Linked DNA regions of Homo sapiens: region 2 is linked to region 1. The links come from fine-mapping of genetic effects on plasma protein levels. A gene starts in region 1. The other region holds a variant in brackets. All regions are shown on one strand. Distances are from middle to middle. Region 1 holds the start of CCL21 (C-C motif chemokine ligand 21). Region 2 holds the start of SPATA31F1 (SPATA31 subfamily F member 1).

The links. A credible set is the group of variants that fine-mapping cannot tell apart. PIP is the posterior inclusion probability: the model's chance that the variant is causal. Protein levels are from antibody-based Olink assays in UK Biobank. Linkage for the fine-mapping came from a reference panel and not from the study's own genotypes, which makes the PIPs less certain.
Region 2: its variant is the best candidate, but not a certain one, in a credible set for the plasma level of the CCL21 protein (UK Biobank, PIP 0.83).

Annotation. Positions count from the first base shown.
Region 1 is chr9:34,703,794-34,715,639 of GRCh38, reverse strand. CCL21 (C-C motif chemokine ligand 21) reads left to right here and starts at 5,504. Exons shown (of 4, transcript NM_002989.4): 1 at 5,504-5,640; 2 at 5,743-5,863; 3 at 5,958-6,140; 4 at 6,213-6,635. The coding sequence starts at 5,574. The coding sequence ends at 6,246. It also overlaps a transcript of PHF24 not described here.
Region 2 is chr9:34,723,372-34,735,217 of GRCh38, reverse strand. It overlaps SPATA31F1 (SPATA31 subfamily F member 1), which reads left to right and starts at 5,730. Exons shown (of 4, transcript NM_001141917.2): 1 at 5,730-5,934; 2 at 6,564-6,609; 3 at 7,136-7,196; 4 at 8,230-11,846. The coding sequence starts at 5,791. It also overlaps a transcript of PHF24 not described here. The variant C/T (reference allele first, on the strand shown) is at 5,225.

The DNA of each region.
Region 1 (11,846 bases):
AGGCCATCCCAGAGGTTGTCACAAAGTAGCCAGTTTCTCTCAGGAGCTCACCAAGCCAACATCTTCACCCAGAGGACTGGAACTGTAGGTGGAGACCCACATCTCGGATGTGCAGCCATCTGAGTCTTTGTGTCCCCTTCCCCAAGCTCTGCATCCAGCCTGGTCTGAGGACTGAGAGGAGCTTGGGTCAAAGCTGCAGGCTCCAAATCCCCAAACCCAGCTTACAGTTCAAGTGGGGCTGTGGGGTACAATAAACCCAGGCCAGCAGCTGAGGGCAGAGGAATGGCTCAGAAGACTTGGGGTCCCAGAAAAGGGTAATGGCTCTCTCATCATCCGAGCTCCTCACTCTCTTCTACCCTGCTTCAGTGCCTCCCTCTCACCACCCCTGCCACCAGGTCCACTCACAGACTGGAGACGGGGTAGGGACTCGCTATCCCATCCTCACTCTCAGGGCAGCTGTTTTCTGCGCTGGATTTTGTCCAGCCAGGTTTCCACCTCCAGAAAAGCCCCTACTGCTTCCTTCATTTCCCTTAGGGCTCCTAACCTTGATTCTAAGCTCCAGCACCAAGCAGACAGACCTCAATATCTCCAGGATGTAACATCTCCCTGAGACTGCTCTACCACTGCAGGCTCAAGTTCACAGGCAGGGGCTTAGGGTTGATGCCTAATCAACCTAGATTCCTGCATCTAGGAAGACCAGGCAGAGATGGGACCTAGGGGGTTGTGCACACCATCTGACACAACAAGAAGCTTCTTTCATGGCATGAATAAGGGTAAGGGAGACAGGCAGGTATCTTGGAGAGAAAGCAAGCCTAAGCTTTTAGGAAAGAAAAAGGTACAGCCCCCTCCTCTTCCCTGCCATCTCTCCTTTTTTTCTACAATCTGTGCCAGGCGAGAAAGTCTCCTCCTCCAGGGGAGGTAGAGGGGGCATCACTCCAGCTTTCCTTTCCCCAGACCAACTTTGTTCCCTTTCACCGGCTCTGTGTCAATCTAGAGTGTGGGATGGGGAGCAGAATAGGCCCAAGTGGCTCTCCCAGCCCCACCCCACCAAATGCTTAGAATTACCTGCAGAACTTGGTAAAAATACACATTTGTTGGCTCTATTCTGAGATTCTATTTAAGGCGGTCTGGCGTGTTGCTTCTAATTCTGTTTTTAAAAAGTCACCCAGGTGATTCTGAAGTGCAGCCAAGTTTGGAAGCAAACTAATATAATATGACTTCGGAATTATCTGCATGCCCCCTCCCAAGCCCATGCTATTCTATCTGTCTGAGAATTCCTCAGAGACAGGCTGCTCACTACTTTCTTAGTCACTCCCATTAGGCAGGTGGGGAAACCAGGGAGCTGGGAATTTAAAACTTTCTGGTTCCAGGATCTGCCTCTAGACCAGGTAAAAGATCCAAGAAATCTTATCTCCTTGTTTTTGCCTAGTCTTGTTCCAGGAACACCAGCTTCTTGCCAACAGAGTCACTCCCTGCCCTGCTTAAGGTCTCAGCCTTAAGGTCTCTTGAGTCTGAAAACCTCAGACTCAAGAGCTCAATTATTTCTCCTCTAGGCCACCAAATTCCAGCCCCTCTACTCTGTGGACCTTAGAATGAAACACCACCTCTTTATCCCCCTCCCAACAGTACCTCCATCTTCAACCCCATGCCTTCTGCATCCCATCCTTCCCCAAGAGCAACCCAATATTTCTGTCTCTGGCCATGGCTGTCCTGACTACATCTCTCCTGACACTCATTTCCTCCTCTTCCTATGGTTTCCCTATCCTGTCATAAGCCATCCTTCAAAAAACAAGATGTAAGGAGCTTGCTGCTGAGTTTAGCACTCTGGAAACCAGATGGATTCTCCAGCTCTGACGTGAGGATTACAACTCTAAGGTCCCAATCCAGTATTAAATATAGATTCTAAGTTATGACCCAATAACCCTCACACATCATATACCATAATAAACTCCAAATGGATAAAAGATTTTAAAATGTTAAAAATTAAACTACAGAAAAACATCATACAAAATGGCAGAGTAAGAAGTTATAGGGGTTGGTCCCTCCACCAAAGCAACTATTGAGGTGGAAAGAGCAATTGGAATCGACTCTTTCAGAAGTCTGGAGCCCGATTGGACACTTATAACAAGCAGGGGGGGTGGTACTTGATGAAGGGAGAGGTTGCTGGTCTTTCAGAAGAGAGCATAATGCATGCACTAGCTACCAACCAACACAGTGGGGATAGCAGCCCACATTCCTGAAGTAGCTGGGTGGTCACTGAGTGGGCAGGGGGAACCCTGTCCTCCAAAAATGAGGGGTTTTGCATTTGGGTTTGTCTTCTGGTTCCCTAAGGGACAGGCTTGCTTTGTTTCAGCCCTCTTGGGCTTCAGGATCTTCCTGAGCCACATATATCAGAAGATTTAAAGGGACAGAATCTTTTTGCGGGGAAGGAAGAGAACCCTTTGTCAGGTCATAAACAGAAATTTCAGTAACCCCACAAAACAAAGAATACACACTTTGCAAAAAACCGTTTGAAAAAGTCACCACAAATTGATGGCAGAGTTCTCAACAAGTGTATATCAGCAATCCCTAAGGAGTGAAAAAATTGAATTTCTAGAGATACCACACTGTAATATTCAGAATGCCCAGTTATCAACAAAAAATTACTAATACAAAGAAATAGGAAAGTATGGCCCATTCACAGGAAGAAAGGAATTTGACAGAGACTATCCCTGAGGAAGCCCAGATATTGGACATAGTAGATGAAGACTTTAACTGTCTTACTGTAAATGCTCAATAAATATTGATGATGGGAGGTTTGATGATAAGGGTGAGAAGCTGAAATCTCAAATACTGCTTTGTTGCTTGTTTTATTATGACCTCAAATTAAATTGGGAAACAATGGCCCTTTTGGAAAAAAAAAATAACTGTCTTAAATATGCTCAAAGAGCTGAAGGAAACCATGGGCAAAGAGTTAAGGGAAATCTGAAAAATGGTGTATGAACAAAATGAAACTATCAATAAAGAGATGGAAATTAGTAAAAAGAAAAAAAGGACTCAAGCAGAAATTCTGGAAGCAAAAATACAATAACTGAAATGTACAATTCACTAGGGGCAATCAACAACTAATTTAAGCAGAAAAAAAAGGATCAGTATTCTTGATGATAAGACAATTAAAATTATCAAGTATGAGAAGAAAAATAAACGAGCCTCAGGGATACCATCAAATGTACCTCATCACAGGAGTCTCAGGAGGAGAAGAGAGGGAACAGGGCATTAAAAAAATTGAAGAAATAATGACAAAACATCTGAAATCTGATGAAAAGCATGAATATACATACCCAAGAAGTTCACAAACTCTAAGAAGGATAAACTCAGAGATCCACACCAAGACAAATTATAGTCAAATTGTTGAAACCCAAAGATTTTAAAAGCAGCAAGAGAGAAGTAACTCATTATGTACAAGAGATTCTCAATAAGATTACCAGCTGATTTCAGAAACCATGGGAGGCCAAAAGACAATGGGGGATATATTTAAAGACTGAAGAAAAAAAAAAGTCAAACAAGAATTCTATATATCCAGCAAAACTATGCTGCAAGAATTAAGGAGAAATAAGACATTTCCAGATAAACAAAACTTAGGAAGTTCATTAATAGTAGACCTGCCCACAAGAAAAGCTAACGGGAGAAAGAAAAAACAAACAAACAAACAAACAAATGCTAAAGGAAGACCTTCAGAATGAAACAAAAGGACAAAAAATAATAACTCACAGCCACACAAAGAAACAAAGATCTCTGATAAACATAACAACATAGCAGGCTGGGCGCAGTGGCTCATGTCTGTAATCCCAGCACTTTGGGAGGCCAAGGTGAGCGGATCATTTGAGGTCAGGAGTTTGAGACCAACCAGGCCAACATGGTGAAACCCCATCTCTACAAAAAATAGAAAAATTAGCTGGATGTGGTGACAGGTGCCCATAATCCCAGTTACTCGGGAGGCTGAGGCAGGAGAATGGCTTGAACCCGGAGGGTGGAGGTTGCAGTGAGCCAAGATCACGCCACTGCACTCCAGCCTGGGCGAAAGAGTGAGACTCTGTCTCAAAAAAAAAAAAAAAAAAGTAACAACATTGCCAGGTATGCTGGTTCACACTTGTAATCCCATTACTTTGGGAGGCCAAGGCGGGTGAATTGCTTGAGGTCAGGCGTTCGAGACTAGCCTGGGCAACATAGTGAGACCTCGTGTCTACAAAAAATACAAAAATTAGCCAGGCATGGTGGCCCCACTACTCAGGAGACTGAGGTGGAAGGATCACTTGAGCCCAGGAGGTCGAGGCTGCTGTGAGCTGAGATTGTGCCACCGCACTCCAGCCTGGGTGACAAAGCGAGACCCTGTGTCAAAAAAAAAAAAAAAGATAAAAGCTAGTATTGTATTTTTAGTTTGTAGCCCCACTTTTTTCTATATAATTTAAAAGGAAAATGCATTAAACAATAATTATAAATCTATGTCAATGGGAACACAATGTATAAAGATGTAATCTGTGACAATAACAATATAAAGAAGGGACTAAAATGTATACGAGCAAAATGTTTATATACCATTGAAACTAAGTTGGTATTATTCAAACTAGGTTGTTATCAGTTTAGAATGTTAATTATAATCACCAAGGTATCCATTAGGAAAATAACTACAAAATATATAGAAAAGGAAAGCAAAGGGGAATCAAAATGGTTATGCTACAGACCAGGTGCAGTCGCTCATACCTATAATTCCAGCACTTTGGGTGGCCAAGGCAGGAGGATCGCTTGAGCCCAGGAGTTCAAGACCAGACTGGGCAACATAGCAAGACCTCATCTCTAGAAAAAATAAAAATGAAAAATGAAAACAGTAGCCGGACGTAGTGGCATGTGCCTGTGGTCCCAGCTCCTCAAGAGGCTGAGGCAGGCAGATCATTTGAGCCCAGGAGCTCAAGACTAGCCTGGGCTAGACATCGTGAAACCTCGTCTCTACAAAAAAAAAATAGAAAAATCAGCCAGGCGCAGTGGTGCTTGCCTGTAGTCCCAGCTCCTGGGGAGGTTGAGGTAGGAGGATCACTCGAGCCCAGGAGGCGGAGATTTCAGTGAGCCAAGATCAACCACTGCACTCCAGCCTGGGTGACAGAGTTAGACCCTGTCTCAAAAAAAAAAAAAAAAAAAAGAACTCTTACAATTTAATAATCAGATTTGCTGGAAGGAGGGGAAGGGTATGGATCCTGGAGCGTAGTGAGGAGACAGTCATGGTGTTCCAGGGGAGAGGCAGTGAGGCCTGCATGAAAGCAGTAGCTGGGAATAGAAGGAAGGCTCAGGCCCAGACATATTCAACTAATGAGGACATAAAATTTGGCAGCTGAGGACTGTCCACTTAGTTTGAGATAAGTGGGGCTGGGTGCCAGCAAATCCAGCTTTCAGGAAGGAAAAGGAGTGGGGATAAGTTAAGGGAAGTGAAAGTGTCTAGCTACATAAATAGCAGGCCAATCCCAGCCCACGCACAGACCCCCAACTTGCAGCTGCCCACCTCACCCTCAGCTCTGGCCTCTTACTCACCCTCTACCACAGACATGGCTCAGTCACTGGCTCTGAGCCTCCTTATCCTGGTTCTGGCCTTTGGCATCCCCAGGACCCAAGGTACCAAGGCAGGGAGGGGCCTTGCATGGGGCTAAGGGGATCAAGAGGCCTGGATAGGAGCTTGCCAGCAGCCCCTGGCTCCCTGTGAATCCCACCCTGCAGGCAGTGATGGAGGGGCTCAGGACTGTTGCCTCAAGTACAGCCAAAGGAAGATTCCCGCCAAGGTTGTCCGCAGCTACCGGAAGCAGGAACCAAGCTTAGGCTGCTCCATCCCAGCTATCCTGTGAGTGGACACAAAGGGGTGGGTACTGGCTGGTGACGGGGTGGGGAGGGCATGGTGGGCAAGACTAAGAAGGCTTACTAGCCCCCACCCGCAGGTTCTTGCCCCGCAAGCGCTCTCAGGCAGAGCTATGTGCAGACCCAAAGGAGCTCTGGGTGCAGCAGCTGATGCAGCATCTGGACAAGACACCATCCCCACAGAAACCAGCCCAGGGCTGCAGGAAGGACAGGGGGGCCTCCAAGACTGGCAAGAAAGGAAAGGGCTCCAAAGGCTGCAAGAGGTGAGGAATCTGAGGGATGTGGGTAAAGGGGAGCCTCAGTCAGCCCCTCACACCCCTCTTCTGCCCTCACAGGACTGAGCGGTCACAGACCCCTAAAGGGCCATAGCCCAGTGAGCAGCCTGGAGCCCTGGAGACCCCACCAGCCTCACCAGCGCTTGAAGCCTGAACCCAAGATGCAAGAAGGAGGCTATGCTCAGGGGCCCTGGAGCAGCCACCCCATGCTGGCCTTGCCACACTCTTTCTCCTGCTTTAACCACCCCATCTGCATTCCCAGCTCTACCCTGCATGGCTGAGCTGCCCACAGCAGGCCAGGTCCAGAGAGACCGAGGAGGGAGAGTCTCCCAGGGAGCATGAGAGGAGGCAGCAGGACTGTCCCCTTGAAGGAGAATCATCAGGACCCTGGACCTGATACGGCTCCCCAGTACACCCCACCTCTTCCTTGTAAATATGATTTATACCTAACTGAATAAAAAGCTGTTCTGTCTTCCCACCCAAGTACCTGTTCCCATGTGTTTATGTCCACCGAGATGCCAAGGTTCCTACAGGGTGGGGTCACACACTCTGAGCCGAAAGCTCAGGCTGAAAAATGCTATGTTCTCATCTACCCCAAGAGTTTCCTTGCCTCTCAGGTGCCTGCACCCCTGAGCAGTTAAAGGGAGGCTGAAGGACAGGGTAGGACCCAGTCTTCTGAGGCATCCTGCCAATGGAGAGGTGGTGGACATGGAGCACACACCCCCAACAGCTCTGCAGACCTCTGAGACCCTGATTCTGTCCTGCACTAACTCCAGGGGTGACCTTCGGATCTTTTCCATGACCTTCAGACCTTTCCCCAGATATCCCAGAGGCTTCCTCTCTTTTCCCTGGGAACTATTCAATGAGACCCTCCAAGTGGTTCTTTGGAAGGGTCCCTAGGAGGGAAGCTGTGGCTTGGGCCCATCTATAACACAGACAAACACAAGTTATATTGAAACCTGCCCTAGCACAGTTCCAGCCCTGAGAGAGCCCCTGGGAGGCAAAGACCCGAGGGGACTTGCTTCAGCCCTATTCAGTGAAGCTCGGGCCTTGACCTCTCCTCTTTGTTTAATGGGGCTGTTGTGCTCTCCTTCTATTCCTATCTGGGCCCCTGGACTCACTCAGCCTCCTTCCAGATGGAAAAACCTCCTCCCTTTTTTTTTCCTCCTTTCTTTCCTGGCTGGGATCCAGACTACTTTAGCCCATTTAACCCTTTGAAGTCAAGGAATAAGTCTCCTGGGGCAGGTTTTCAGAACCCCAGGATTCAGGTGTGAATCAGTCTCCTCTCCTGGAAGGCCTCAGATGGCTCTCCTCTACCTCTTCCTCCCCAGAGTGAAGACCCTTCTATTCCCCAAATCACCTCCAGGCGGGGAGAGTAGAAGCCATCAGATTGGGCCAGACAATGTGAGAAAGAAGGGAACAGATCCTGGGGAAGGGCAAGAAAGGTAGGAACCTCAAGGCCGGGCGCGGTGGCTCAGGCCTGTAATCCCAGCACTTTGGGAGGCCAAGGCAGGCGGATCATGAGGTCAGGAGTTCCTGACCAGCCTGGCCAACATGGTGAAACCCCGTCTCTACTAAAAATACAAAAATTAGCCGGGCATTGTGGCGGGCGCCTGTAATCCCAGCTACTCGGGAGGCTGAGGAAGGAGAATCACTTGAACCCAGGAGGCGGAGGTTGCAGTGAGGTGAGATCGATTGTGCCATTGCACTCCAGTCTGGGCGACAAGAGCAAGACTCCATTTCAGGAAAAGAAAAAAAAAGGAGGAGAAGAAGAAGAAGAAAGGTAGGAACCTCAGAAGCTAGAAGTGGCTGCTCCATCAACTTTTCCTTCTGTAGGAGCCTGAGTATGCCACAGCACTTACCACCTATCCTAACATCCTCAAGTATTGGCTTGTCTGCTCCTCTTGCAGCAGGTGAAGACAGGGCCTCTCCCCTGCCTGTCCTAGGGCAGCAGGTGTGAAATTAATCTATAAACTCAGATATGCAAGAAATACTACTTTTGAAATGTTCCTTAAATGAACTTAATTCCTACTCCAAGCTACTGCACTAGAGTGCTGATGAGAAATTCAACATCAGGCACTCTTGTGGGATCCCACCTGCCAAGGGTTATGCAAAGGTCACAGAAACCTCAAGGCCCAAGGGAGGCCTCCTACCTGCCTCCTACACCATCCTATCATTGGACATCAGTCTCGCCAGTGAGTGTTCTGACCCCTGTGGTTCCAGCAGGTATATCTCTTCAAGTCCTAGACTCCACATTTGAGACATAAGAATTCAGATATGACAGCCTCTGGGCTTGGACTTGACCTCCCCAGATACCCCCGAAGCCATCTACTCAACAGTCCTGTCACTTGCCCCATCACAGACAGAAATTAGAGCCCAGTGCCCACTCTGGCTGGATGTACACACTAATCCCTTCGCAGTCCTAAACAATTGTCTCCCTCTCCTCAGCCCCTCCAGGGCATAACCTCTTCCCCAAGTTTACAAGTTTACTTTTTTTTTTTTTTAAGGCTTGCTTTGTAGTCCAGGCTGGAGTGCAAAGGTAGGATCATAGCTCACTGTAACCTCAAACTCCTGGGCTCAAGGGATCCTCCTGCCTCAGGCTCCAAGTTGCTGGGATTACAGGTGTGAGCCTCTATGCCCGGCATTTTCCCCTGGTGTAAGACATTTACAAAAGGCCTTTGACGTCAGGCTCCCTTTGACATCAGGACATCACTCCCAGCCCTGCCAAAACTCTTGCCTACTCTATAGTGAAAAGAAAAACATAGGCAGAAAAAACAAAACTCTCTATTTCACTAAATTCTCCTGCCACACCTGCATGCCTGGTATTTGCCTCAAGCCCTGCTCTGAGTAAGCATGCAATATATTATTTATTCCATCAGATCATGACTGGCCACTCTCCTTGTCTGCCTTCATCTTTGACAACATTGTCCTGTTCTTTCTCTTTTCTCTCTTATTCTCTTGATGCATAATTCAAAAAATATCACATAATACACACTCACAGTTAAAAAATATATCCAAAAGTACCAAAAGGTTTATTCTGAATAACATAATTTCCTACAACTTTAACTCCTATGCTATTTCTTAGTGCCATATGTCTAAGTACTTTGCCTATACCTCTGTTTCTTGATTTACCTATTTTAAACATTACCAGATGACTTCCTACTATAAAAAGTGAAGATCTAACTCTCTTGCCAACTCTCCTCTCCTGTCACTGCATCCTCTAAATATAGTCATACCATAATATTTAGATCATGATTATATTACCATATTTAGATCATAATTACAGTTTATATTATTGTGGATTACTATTACATAATATGTATTATCACATATTACATTATTTTGACTATATAAATGTTCTCTGCAGACAAAAGTAGTGCACTTTTCCTTCGTCACTCATCTTTTTGTTTTTCTTAAAGGTTCTAATGCCCTTCCCTTTTTAAAATACCTCTATCTTGACATTGCCTTTCAAATTCTTCATCATATGAGATGGATTCAAAACATAATGTTTAAGATATACGTAGAAGAAAATATAGGTGAATGTGGTTATAACTTCGAGGTATAAAATAACTTTTTTTTAAAATAAAATGGAGACCAGGTCTCACTATATTGCCCAAGCTGGTCTTGAACTCCTGGGCTCAAGCGCTCCACCCGCCTCAGCCTCCCAAAGTGCTGGGATTACAGCCATGAGCCACTCTGCTTGGCCAAAAAGAGTTTCTTAAACAAGTCATAAAACCATAAAACGTAAATCATTAAAGATCAACACCATTAAATTTAAAAACAAATCGGAGTTCAGGGTAGGGATGGAAAATTAATTACATGCCTTTATTTTCACTTCTCACTGAGCCCCGACTAAAACTACAGTAAATTTTTTTGGTGCATGTATGCGTGTAAAGGCATAAAGCAAGGCCAGGCGCAGTGGCTTACGCCTGTAATCCCAACACTTTGGGAGGCCAAGACGCTCACTTCAGCTCAGGAGTTTGAGACCAACCTGGGCAACACAATGAGACCTCGTCTGTACAAAAAATAAAAAAAAGTAGCTGGTGTAGTGGCATGTGCCTATGGTCCCAGCTACTCAGGAGGCTGAGGTGGGAGGATCACTTGAGCCTGGGAGCCATATAGCCTGGGCTAAAAAGTGAGAGACCCTGTCTCAAAGTAAATAAATTAATTTTAAAAATAAAATAAAGGCATAAACCCCCAAGAGCCCAAATGGGAGAGGAGATAAAGGTAACTTTCCAAAAGCCTACTGCTGAGACACGTAAATATTTCAATAAAAATAGATACAAAGCATAAAATCAAATTATAAATATGAAGGATTTCTAATGTCTTATTCGTGAATACAGTAAAAATTCATATTTACTGAATATTCATATGCCAGTATCCAACAGGGAAACAATGACTTCTACTAGAGATGTAAAAAAAAAAAAATCCTAAAGATGAATTATCTCTAAAATCTACAAAATCTTCATTCCTTAAGCATGAAAACTCATTTTAATCCCTGGAATCCTGACTTTTCTTTATCACAGAACCACAGAAGCAATTTATTGCTTTAAAAGTGAGTTATCACTATGTTCTAACAATGAGTCCTCCTCAGTGTCATCCAGAAAATTACTAATACCATGTATTTTTGTTGTTTTTATTTGCTCCTTTTTTGAGATAGGGTCTTGCTCTGTCACCCAGGCTGAAGTGAGTGGCGCAATCTCAGCTCACTGCAACCTCAACCTCCTGGGCTCAAGCAATCCTCCCACCTCAGCCTCCTGAGTAGGTAGGACTACAGGCACACACCACCACACCCAGCTAATTTTGTTCATTTTTTGTAGAGACGAGGTCTCACTATGTTGCCCAGGCTGGTCTTAAAACTCCTGAGCTCAAGGGATCCTCCCACCTTGGCCTCCCAAAGTGCTGGGATTACAGGTGTGAGCCACTGTGCCTGGCCATACCATGTTTTTAAATAATTTCACCACTATCTCTTCCACAAAATGATAACATACACACACACACACACACACTAATGAAATCATGGGCTGACTCCCACTTGTCAGTGTTGCCTCAGAATCTCCTCCTGCTTCTCCCGGTTCACTCCTTCCTTGTCAATATTTTAAGGGCTTCTTTGATACAGATATAGAGGATAGGTGGGACTAGTAAAGAATTAGAGCTAGCTGGGCATGGCAGCTCACGCCTATAATCCCAGCACTTTGGGAGGCTGAGGTGGGCAGATGGCTTGAAGCCAGGAGTTTGAGACCAGCCTGGGCAACGAAGCAAGACCCCTGTCTCTACAAAAAAAAAAGAAAGAATTAGCCAGGCACGGTGGCACAGGCCTATTGTCCTAGCGACTTGGAGGCTGAGGTGGGAGGATCACTTGATTGCCTAGGAGTTCGAGGCTGCAGTGAGCTATGATCACACCATAGCTGATCATAGTGGAGCAATACCCCACCTTTAAAAAACAAAAAATTAGAGCTAATAGATCTCAGGCCAGGAACCGTGGCTCATGCCTATAATCCCAGCACTTTGGGAGGCTGAGGTGGGAGGATCTCTTGAACTCAGGAGTTCGAGGCTGCAGTGAAAAACAAACAAGCCTCAGTTAGTCCTATAAACCTGAAACCAATTCCAAAGTAAGCAGTCGGCCAGGTGCGGTGGCACACACCTGTAATCTCAGCTCTTTGGGAGGCAGAGGTAGGAGAACGGCTTAAGCCC
Region 2 (11,846 bases), 20 kb before region 1:
GTTGCAGTGAGCTGAGATTGAACCATTGCACTCCAGCCCTGGCGACAAAGTGAGACTCCGTCTCAAAAAAAAAAAAAAAAAAAAGAAAAAAGAAAGCTGGACATCTATTGTAAGAGAGTAGACTGAGTTAAATCATTTTTATACCTGAAAATGATCACCCCTTTCCTTCTGCTAGGACTTTAGTATGGGAGATTGATTCAGTCTAGTCAGGAGCTGAGCTGTGTTTGGGTTTTGTTCTTGCTATGTTACTGTCAGTGCATAACAGGCTCCAGGTTTCTCTAATATTACTTTGTGTTTATGGTTGAGGCTGGTTTGCCAGAGGTTTGCTCAATGTCATCCTCCATGCTCTTGATGGTATTTCAGCAGTAGACTGCAGTTGTTACTTAATGCTTATTAGCCTGGTTGGTCAGGGTGGGGAGATTCTGTTTTTCTGATTCAGCTTCAGTTTTAGACAGGGGCTGTGCCCCTGAATCTCAGGACAGGGCCTTCTCCCTGATCCTATGCCACCCCCAGCTGGAATACTTCTGATGGTCTGGGGCCTACAAAGGTAGAGGAGGTCTGGGGCCTACAAAGGTAGAGGATTTTTTTCTTTTCCCTTTTTCCAGCTGCAATGGGTCTTCACCTATACGTGATTTATGGCCTCACGACAGGACTTACTGCTCTTCATCTAGCAACTTAAGGCTTTTGTTTCCATAGGGAAGAGAAGGGAGAAGAATCTGGGAAGGGCTTGGTGCCTTTCCCCTCAGCAGCTGCTCTTCCTTTTCCCCAGGCCTGTACCACGAGTGATATTTTTTCAGGACTCTCACACTACCCCCAGTCTTTCTTGTGAATACACACTAAGGTTCGTGGAAAGGACCCTGCAAGTGAGTGTGAATTCTCCCTGTACTTGTAAGTCCCAGCATTTCTGTATTCTCACGCTGGGCTACAGTTGGCCTTTAGCAATTCATTAAAACTTTTATCTGGATTCTTACAAGCTTGATGGGAGGGAAGTGGGGGAGTCGGCTCCAAATAAGCAAGTGCACCTGTGCTACATCTCCTTCAAGATGTCTTTCCTTAGATTAAGGTTAATTGAGTTGACCTAGAACTTCAGCTTGCTGACAAATTCAAGAAAAGTTGTGAATTTACAGTGTCTTGTGATTTCTTTTCTTCTTGTATGTGTGATTTCTTTTGTTGTAAGAGTGAAAGTAATGCTACTTCCAACTTTCCTTTCTAAGGAATCCAGAAGCCCGAGAAACCCTATTTTGTAGTTGAATCTCTGTTAGATGTACCTCAGTGTAATTCTTAACTAATACAGGTTCTAACTTCATTCATTTATCAAAAATAATGAAACCATGAGTACCTGAAGAATTGGAACTTTTTTATAACTTCAGGAAGAGAAAAACCTTTCTAAGTGTGACTTAAAACACAGAAGCCATGGCCGGGCACAGTAGTACATGCCTGTAATCACAGCAATTTGGAGGGCCGAGGCAGGAGGATTGCATGAGACTAGGGGTTCAAAACCATCCTGGACAACACAGGAGACCCCCATCTCTACAAAATAAAAATAAAAATTAGCCAGGTATGGTGGCACATGCCTGTGATCCCAGCTACTAGGGAGGCTGAGGTGGGAAGATCGCTTGAGCCCAAGAGATCAAGGTTGCAGTGAGCCATAATGGCACCACTGAAATCCAGCATCATGGCAACACAGTGAGACTCCGTCTCAAAAAAAAAAAAAGACCCACAGAAGCCATAAAATAAAAGACTAATAAATTCAACTACATAAAATCCAAAAATTTACATGTGGCAAAAACTCATTATAAATATCAAATGACAAACTGAGAAAAAGTATTTCTGATACATATATAATTTCTTAATATTAAAAAACACTTACATATCAATAAGTGATTTTTGCCCAATAATCTGTGAGCTAAGAATAGGAAGAGATATTTCACAGAAAAGAAGCAAAAAGGTGATTATCATACATTGAAACACATTTATAAATATATAAAATACAAATTTGCACTTCTCATATCGACAAAGATCAAAAATTTGATAATATTGAGTCAACAAGCATAGGAAGAGAGGCACCCTTACAGAGTTTTGGTGAGAGTGCAAATTCATACAATTGGTAGGCAATTATGCAATATCAACATTTAAAATACACACACCTTTTGACCCATTAATTCAACTCTTAGGAATTTCTCCTAGTTATATACTCATACCAGTGTACAAGAACTTATACACATGAGGTTCATGTCAGTGTTATTTGGTAGAACAAAAAAACTTTAAAGAAATATCCACGGATATAGGATTGAAAATAAGTCATGTTATAGTTTTACCAAAGAAGACTGTACAAACATTAAAGAAAATTATATACAGAAGATATATTCATAATAATTAAAACTAAAAGAAAAGGGAAAACAGTATCTAGCATGTTTCCATTTATGAAGAAAATATATCAATTTATTTATGCTTCCCATGCTAAATTAATTCTGAAAGATACAGGAGTATTGAGGAAACTCTCCAGGAAATTGATCTAGGGGCAAAGATTTCTTTGTGGAGCAATACCCGATAAGCACAGACAGCCAAAGCAGCAAAAGTGGACAAATGGGCTCACATCAAGTTAAAAAGCTTCTGCACAGCAAAGGAAACAATCAACAAAGTGAAGAGACAACCCCAGAATGGGAGAAAATATATTTACAAACTATTCATCTGGACAAGGGATTGATAACCAGAACATATAAGGAGCTCAAACAACTCATTAGAAAAAAAAATCTAATAATCCTATTGAAAAATGGACAAAAGATCTTTTGTCAAAAGAAGACATTTCTCAAAAGAAGATATACAAATTGCAAACAGGTCTCTGAAAAGGTGCTCAATGTCAGTGATCATCAGAGAAATGCAAATCAAAACTACACTGAGATATCATCTCACCCCAGTTAAAATGGCTTTTATCCAAAAGACAGGTAACAATGAATGCTGGCAAGGATGTGGAGAAAAAGAGAACCCTTGTACACTGATGGTGGGAATGTAAATTAGTACAGCTACTATGGAGACCAGTATGGAGGTTCCCCAAAAAAACTAAAAATAGGCTCACGCCTGTAACCCCAACACTTTAGGAGGCCGAGGTGGGAGGATCACCTGAGCCTACGAGTTCAAGACCAACACGGGCAATAAAGTGAGACCTCATCTCTACAAAAAAAAAAAAAAAAATCCAAAAATTAGCTAAGTGTGGTGGTGCATGTCTGTGGTCCCAGCTACCTGGGAGGCTGAGGCAGGAGGATTGCTTGAGTCCAGGAGGTTGAGGCTCCAGTGAGCCATGATCACGCCACTGCACTCCAGCCTGGGTAACAGAGCAAAAACCTGTCCAAAAAAAGAAAAAAAAACCTAAAAATACAACTACTATATGATCCAGCAATACCACTGCTAGGTATACAACCAATAACCAAAAGAAAGGAAATCAGTATATTGAAGAGATATCTGCACTCCTATATTTACACAATAGCCAAGATTTGGAAGCAAACTAAATGTCCATCAACAGATGAATGGATAAAGAAAATGTGGTACATATACACAATGGAGTGCTATTCAGCCATAAAAAAAGAATGAGGTCCCGTCATTTGCAACAACATGAATGGAACTGAAGAACATTATATTAAGTGAAATAAGCCAGGCATGGCAAAATAATTTTGCATGTTCTCACTCATTTGTGGGAGCTAAAAATTAAAACAATTGAACTCATGGAGATAGAGAATAGAATGATGGTTACCAGAGGCTGGGAAAGGTAGCGGGGTGAGGTGTGGGGGTTTGGGTGGGAGAAGGGCAGATGGTTAATGTATACAAAAAATATAATTAGATAGAATAAATAAGACCTAGTATTTGATAGCACAACAGGGTGGTTACAGTCAATAATAATTTATTGTACATTTTCAAATAACTAGAAGTATAATTGGAATGTTTGTAACACAAAGAAGCGATAAATGCTTGAGGTGATGGATACCCCATTTACCCTGATGTGATTATTATGCATTGTATGCCTGTATCAAAATATCTCACATACCCCATAAATATATACACCTACTATGTACCCATACAAAATAAAAATAAAACATTTTTTAAAAGAGAGATACACGAGGAAGAAAAATAGGAGGAGACAGGGATGAGAGACAGCTATACACTCTTCTGCCTTTTAAATTTTGTGCCATGTGTAAGTATGCTTACTTTAAAAAAAATAGTCTTAGGGATTGAAATAAAATAGATACAAAGGCCCTCCCTCCATCAAGAGGCCTCTATCCTGATCCTCCAATCTTTCTCACAATTGCTCTCCAGTCCACCCTTCTATATTCTGCTAGAGATACACTGCATTTGTTATTGCCAAATGAACTCCATGGCCCATTCCCTAGATTCAGCATGAGCTGGTAAGTTTTTCTCCCACCAGGAAGAGTCCTTTTACCCACAACCTGCACTGTTAAACTTAACTTCGACTACCCAGGAGCCCTCTCTGATGACCATGATCCTCACTATGATTTCTCTTCTCTGAAATGGAATGTTTGTGGCCAGAGCCTTACGAATGAGTATATAAGTCTATTTGTAGTGATTGTTGGCTCTTGCTTTGTATGAATTAGTCTTGTCTTTGAAACTACATTTTTAAGTATCTTGAAAGCAGAAAGCCAATGCGGCTCAAATGTCTTTGTATCCTCAACACTCCCCAGCTTAGGGCTGAGCACATATTGGGTGCTTACCACATCTGCTGGGTGGGCTGGATACTGAGGAAGGACCAAAGCCTCTTCAGAGATTTTCAGCCCAAAGGTTTCTTGGCCTGAGACCACCATTACCAGAGCAGAACTCTCTCAAGGAAATTCAGGAATACTGAGGTGTTGGTGGCATATCACAATATCTACAAAAGCTAGGCAGGTAAATCAATAGTCTGGCTATGGAAGTAATGGGTCCTGAAGCTGAATTGGAAAACACATGCCCTGCCTAAAAATTTACAAAATACAGATTTGAGAAAAATAAACAAACAAACAAAAAAAACATCCTCAGGCAAACAGCATACATCCAACCATGAACAGCAACTAGTCACTTGTGACCCACAGTCAGAAGCGGCCACTAACCCATCTCTGCAGGCATTCATCTCCCTGAGCATGAATGTGCCTCCATGGAAGGTAGCATTTACAGTCCCAACCCATCTGCAAGCTTGAGGCCACACAGACCAGATACGTACAACCACCTTGGCCTCTCCCTA[C/T]CACCCTACCACATCAGCCATGGTCCCCTTCCTGCACCTCTGTTACCAATCACCCATTGCCTAAAACATCAAAGATCTCCATTTCCAAGCCATAACCAGACTCCGCCCTCCCTAAATTCATGTGTGTTTCTCAGGTATATTACCAAAACTAGTGGGAGAGTTAGTGGAGGTTCCTCCGGCCTATCTACCCCTTCTTATGAGGTGACCCCTGTGCCAAAGCACTCAGTTTTCTGAGGACAGGTGACCATACAGTTGTGAAGGAGAGAGCCGAGGCATCAGGCTGGTATAGGGAGTGGAAAGTGAAGACAGACTAGGAAATAGACACTGCTTGTGGCACCTTCAGTCCCAGGCTCAAAACACCCTCATCTACAGACTGAATCACCACATGAGCTTCCCTACTACATGTACCTTATGAAACAGGAGGGCTTTGTGATGCAGTCTGGTGGCCTAGTTCCGTCCTCTGTGAGGTGGACATGACAAGGCCTAGCACTGGGATTCATTAGGCACCAGAACCCTGAATTCCGAGATAGAGGGATGGTTGATCTCATGCTAATGAAGTTTAGACCATGTTGAGCCCTACTTTTGTTCTGTGGGAAGTTGGATATCCCTTATACATCTATGGCTCCATCTTCATCGTTATTGTAATTATCTGGCAAGTGAAAAGGAGCCACCATGAATTGAGTTCAGAACCTAAAAGGAGCTGCTGCCGGGTAGGGCTGTGATCCCAACTGAACTAATTAAGCCTCAGATAAGAAGCCTATAAGTTCTTACCGTGCTCCCTTATAATCCCCACCCCAGAATTTTTATAGCATACTTTCAGTTACCTTTGTGTAATACTTTTCTTCTCAGAGACTATAATTCCTTACCAGGCCCTTCCCGCAACATAGTCTGATTGAAAAGCCAAGAACCTCTCTATTTGGTTTGGATTGAGAACTAGATAATATGAAGTCTATCTTGCTGGATCTCGGAAGCTCTCTGAATATGGGGGATTTTTCCGGTTGGTGGGCTTTGTAAGCAGAAGTCCTTTGGTTGTTAGAACCATTTACCCTTTTGTCTGTTCTGCTTTTCCTCCTGTGTCATCCTCAGCATCCAGCAGGACTTCTCTGTGAATCAGATGGGAGGTATAGAATTTGGAAAAGCCTCCAAGTGAATCCAAAATAAGCAGAGAAGGAAAATGGGGTAAAAAGGTGGAATAGGCAAAGGAAGTCCAGGAGAGTGTATAAAATACAGATAGATATATACAAAGCGAGTGAAAAATGTATGTAAGTTTTGTCTCATTTTGGACATGAGAAAGAAAATGGTGTCCCAGCTTCACATTCTAATGTTTTTGTCTTCTAAGTGTCACCAAAAAGTCAGGCAAAGAGCTAGAGATGCAGCATCAACAGGTAAAGTCCCAATCTCTCCTCTGACTCCCTTCCACTGTGGGTGTTTCCCATGAATCCTGTCCCTCTGTGACCTCTGGAGCCAAGAGCCAGGTGCTCTGCCACTGAAGACTCCAGTTCCCCAGACTGAAATTTCCATGGGTGGGAAATCATAACTTGAGAATGTTCCAAAATCCTGTACCTCAATGCCCTGGAAATGAAGAATTAAGAAAGTAGAGCAGATGTTCTTAATTGTATAACTTACTAGTTTTATGACCCTGTGGAAGTCATTTCATCTCTCATTCTTATCCACAAAATGAGCAAAACACTGACAATCCTGCCTCAATCACATTGTGGTTGTAAAAATCAAATGAAATTAGATATGGGACATTGTGTTACAGCGATGCTGTACTCAGACATGCCTTAGAGTACGGACTTTTCAGGATTGTAGTCTTTTCTTGATGAGAGTCAAAGGCCTTACTATTCAGCTTCCTATAGGATGCCTATGAAATTATCCCATGCCATATAACACTGTCTCCCCGTTCCTCAGCTAGGAGACGTTCCCGGGAAGAAGCTGAGAAGCCACAGAAGCTGCTCTCCATCATTAAAAGGTGATCTATTGCTCTTTGCACTCTATCAACAACCAGCCTGGCCTATGATGATTTCTTGGCTTGGCCTGGGGCAGGACTAAGGAGAAAGATAATGGCTGGGAGGGAGACATACACAGTGGAAGCAGGGACACTGGGTGAGAGGGTTGCCAGGGAAGAGTGGGGTTCACATGTCTCAGGAGAGATGAGCTGCCCAGTTCAGTTCTGTGCTAGGGTAACAGCAGTTCTACAATTCAGGATTTTACTAGTGTATAATTCATAAAACATATTACATGGAGCTGCACTCAGCCATGAGATAAGTTACCCAGTTAAGAGAATGGGTTTTGAATAAAGAAGTCATCCTTGTCTTATTCTCTTTATACTCTTTCAAGGGAATAAAGCTATACCCTTTCAAGGGAAAATACCTGACTCTGGCTAGACTCTGCTGACATGACCTCCTCCGGTTCTGTCTTCAGTGAGGCCAGTACTTGGGACACTCCTTAGACAGGAGTCTATTATATTATCCTCTCCTTAAGAGCTCTAGAGAACAGGACTGGTTCCGAAGAGATGCTGGGTATAACATTACGGGTACCAAATACCCCAGAATGCAGAAGTCCCACAAGGACCTCATTTTCTACAGCTTGGAAGTACTGAATACAGGCTTTGGATTTCTTAGCCTCAAATAAGACTGGTCTGGGTTCTAACTGGTGATGTTCCTGGTGATGCCCCATCAGCTAACTGCCTAGCTCCATTCTCCTAGTTCAGCTTTTCAACAAGGTCAACAGAGAACTGACTCCAACTCCCAGCCCTCTCTGAGGGCCATGCCCTCCCATGGGTTGTCTGAGGCCTTGCCCAACAAGCTCCAGACCATCAGCCCAGCCCACCACACCTTGCCAAATGGCATTTTCTTAGCAAGGAAAGCAGACAGGTAGACAACAAGATGGTATAGGCCCCAGGGTTTTCAGGACTGGGAAAGGAGAGTGCCCACTCCAGCCCACACTCTTCCAAGAAGGCAGATGTCACTCCATCGTTAATTTTGCCGTGTTTCCCTTCCTAGCCAGGGCTGGCTTCCTCTGGAGAGAAGTGTGCGGCGAATCCTGTGTGCAGATCCCTGCTGCCAAATCTGCAATTCTGTGGCTCTGGAGATTCAGCAATTGCTGGTGGGTGAGAACAACCAGATCTCCCTGACTTTATCGGGGCCATTGCAGGGCTCCTCTTGCCTAGAGATGCTGTCTACGTCTAGTATGTCTTTAGATCAGAGTCTGGAGTTTCATTCCTGGCACACCAGAGAGCTTTCACTGTCATCTGTAACCCCAACACTGTCACAATTAACAGATCAGAAATCTTTAACCCAGTCAGCTGCCCAGTCAACGTATGCAGATGGCATACAAGATTACTGGGCTGATCACCTCCAGCTAGGGCAGGAATTTCAAGTGCCAGATGTGCTCCGGGGCCCAAACACCATAGCTTCTTCAAGGATTGAGAAGCCAAGGGCTCCACTGAACCAGGAGGAGATGACGCAGAGCAACCCCAGCCTTGTCCAGGGAAACCAAGGCCAGCATCACTTGAATTCCCAGGTCTCCTTGCTGTCCCTGAACCCAGAAACCCTGAACCGGATGCATCCAATGGCCTTGCATATGGTCCTCCCTGCCCACCTGCCATTTCTCAGTCCTGAAGTGCTGAGGCTTCTTGAGGTACATGTTAAAAAATGGATGCATTTCCAGAGGTGGGGGCTCCCAAGACGTGTGGAGGAGTCCCTGAGGCAGCTTATGCCAAACCCACCATTGTATTACCAACCTGGAAATGACCAGCCAGTTTCTTTCAACCTGAAGAATACTCCTCAGGTCTCTCTTCATAGATTTGAGACCATTTCCCTCCAGACCTGGTGTTCATGTGTGGCTGGCCAGCCCATCCAGACCTTCTGGGTTTCTGAATGGTCCACAATGAACCCAGAACAAAGACACCACTGTCAGCAAACTCCAAACCCTATGGCTCTAGCCTTGCCCTCTCCAGCCCTTAAAGCCCTAAGTGGCCCCCATCCACAGTCTGGGGGACAAGATAATGACTCAGGGAGTGATCTCCAGCAGAAATACAGCCAGCTATTCTGTGGGCTCCCTTCTCTGCACAGTGAGTCCCTGGTTGCCACTTTCATGGGATCTCAAGGCCTCCCCAAGATTGAAAATGTGCCCAAGCCCCCCTTGAAGGATCCTTTTCTCTTCAATGAGCTCTCCTTCCCCCAACTGCTCCCTAAAACTTCACCCCAGTCAGCCCCACCCTCTTCCCCACTTTCCCCAAACTGGATGTCTCCATCTGACCATCAACGAGCTCAGATCAATGTCCCATTTCTGACTCTGGCTGAGTATGAAGCCTTGGAGTGGCACCTGCTACAGAGGCAACTCCAGCTTCAGTGGGGCTGGCCAGCTGCCCTCCAGAGGTCTCAGCACACCCAGTGCCTCATGCAGCATGAGCCCTGTGGCAAAGCTCAGTCTCCTGAGACCACGACAGCTTCCCAGACAGGGAAGTCCATCTCAGTGCTCACCAGGGAACTACTCTTCTTCCCGGAGCATGCCCGGAAGCTGCTGGAATTCCACATCCAGAAACAGTTGATTCGCCATCGCTGGGGCCTGCCTCAGAAGATCCAGCAGTCCATCCAGTTGCTCCTTACCTCCACTGATCAGCAGACTGTGTCCAGCAGCAGCACAGCCCTAGCCAACGTGAGCATCCCCCAGCCTGTAGCCCTAGAGGCCAACGGGGCTTGCGATGTGCTGTCACCCATTGCGGCCCCAGTGTCCATCCCCAGGCCACACTTGTTAACTCAGGTCAAGGCAATACTGCAGAGCCACATCGACTCCAAATGTGGACAAATCCACCAGGGCAAGATCCCCGCCTGTGTACACAGGTCCTGGGACTGCAGAATTTCTGGGGTCCTGGCAGTGGCTCCTTTTCCCTGCATTCCAGAAAGCCAGTTCCTGGAACTGCAGACAGCAAGTGACCCGGACCTGCATCACAAAGTTATGCCCTGGATGCCAACGGCCCTTGATCAGCAGCAACAGGCTTTACCAGGTACTGTCACTGAACACCCTAAGCTGCTCCGAGTCTTGTCTGTGGAAGCCATTGAGAAACTGGAGACAACTTTACGGCACAAGCATCTGGCCTTCCTGTCGGGGCTGCCTGCTCTGTATTATGTGGCGCTCCCCAGGGCCCTGGCCCCGGCAGTCACTAGCCAATCTGTCATCACAGAGATGGAGCCTAGTCCCGTGGAAATCCCAGCAGAGCCTCTGATTCAGATGGTTTCATTTGAAGAACAGTGTATAAGTCTTGGGCCATGCCCTCAAGGCAACAATGAGAGTTGTACAGACGTTGCAAAAGAGTTCCAGCCTGCAGTGCCAGTAAAAGGAACAATGGAGACGCTGCCTCTAGAAAGCCAGACGCATCCTACTAGCCCCCACTCACTCCAGACACATATCTTGACCAAACTAAACTTCCACCTGAGAAAAAAGGTCCTAGAGATACAATGGGGAATTCCCATTAGGGCAAGGAAGTCCAGGGAACAAACTGTTGCAGCACCAGAGAACATATCCACACAGAAGTCTCTTGAAAGTCTAAACCACCAAGGGGAGACATTGCTCCAGGAACTGCCCATCCCACCAGACACTCTTCCTGCCCCTAATCCAGAAGGGGTTCACCTTAAAGAACAGCTGGCCAATGACTTGAAGGCAGTGCAGCAGAACCAAAAGCAATCCAATTCCAAAGCTGTACCCCAGGGTTCTGCCCACTCGGTCTCCAAGATCTCACAGCCCAGTGGGGACATGACAGAGGCCCACATGCCTTGTGTTCAGGTAGAGGCCAATGTGAACAAACCCAGCCTGGAGGAACCCTGTGGCCCTGAGCCTCAAAGCCCTAGCAAGAGCAAGGACCCAGCCCATGTCCCCATGCTAGCAGGAAACAGAGAGGACCCAGAGGAAACCAAAGCAGCCAGGGACCACAGAGAAGGGGATGCGGGGTTTGGGCGCTCCTCAACCAGAGAAGAGAGACGCCCTGCTGAAGACCAGAGGCCAGCAGGGATGCTTCCAAACAAGACACCCCGAGGGTCCTGGCGATGGAGCCGTAGCTTTCATCTTGCTGATCCCTGTCAACACAGCCCCCAGCATCACCCTCAGCTTAAGCTCCCACAGCTACCTCCACGAGTCCCTGGGGAGAAAGAGTCTGAGAAGGACCTGCAAGACAGTCAAACCAAGCTAACTGTCATCCTTGAACCAGCGACAATTCCTGAGAATGCCCAGACTGTGTTGCCCCAGGCTTCACAGGGTCAGCCTTTCCTGAGCCAACCAACTCAGGCTAAGCCTTTGCAGGGCCAAACTTTGCAAGGCCAAGTTTTGCATGGGCTGGTGATGCCAGTCCATGCTCAAAAGAAGCCCAGCCTTACAGAGTCTAGCTTCAGAAATAAAATTAAATGTTTTCTGCAGCATATTAACCCCAAGACAAAAGGCAAAGGGCATGAGGACTCCATGTTCTCAGCCGCTGCGAAGGTGGCCAAAACCAGAAAAGAAAATGTTGCAAAGAGCCTGGCTCCAGCCAAGAGCCCTGTGGGGAGAAGTAAGACGGAGAAGCCGACAGGGTGCTCCAAGGCCCAATCTCGTCCTGCTCAGAAGCTGGTGGGCCCAGCCTTCTTGG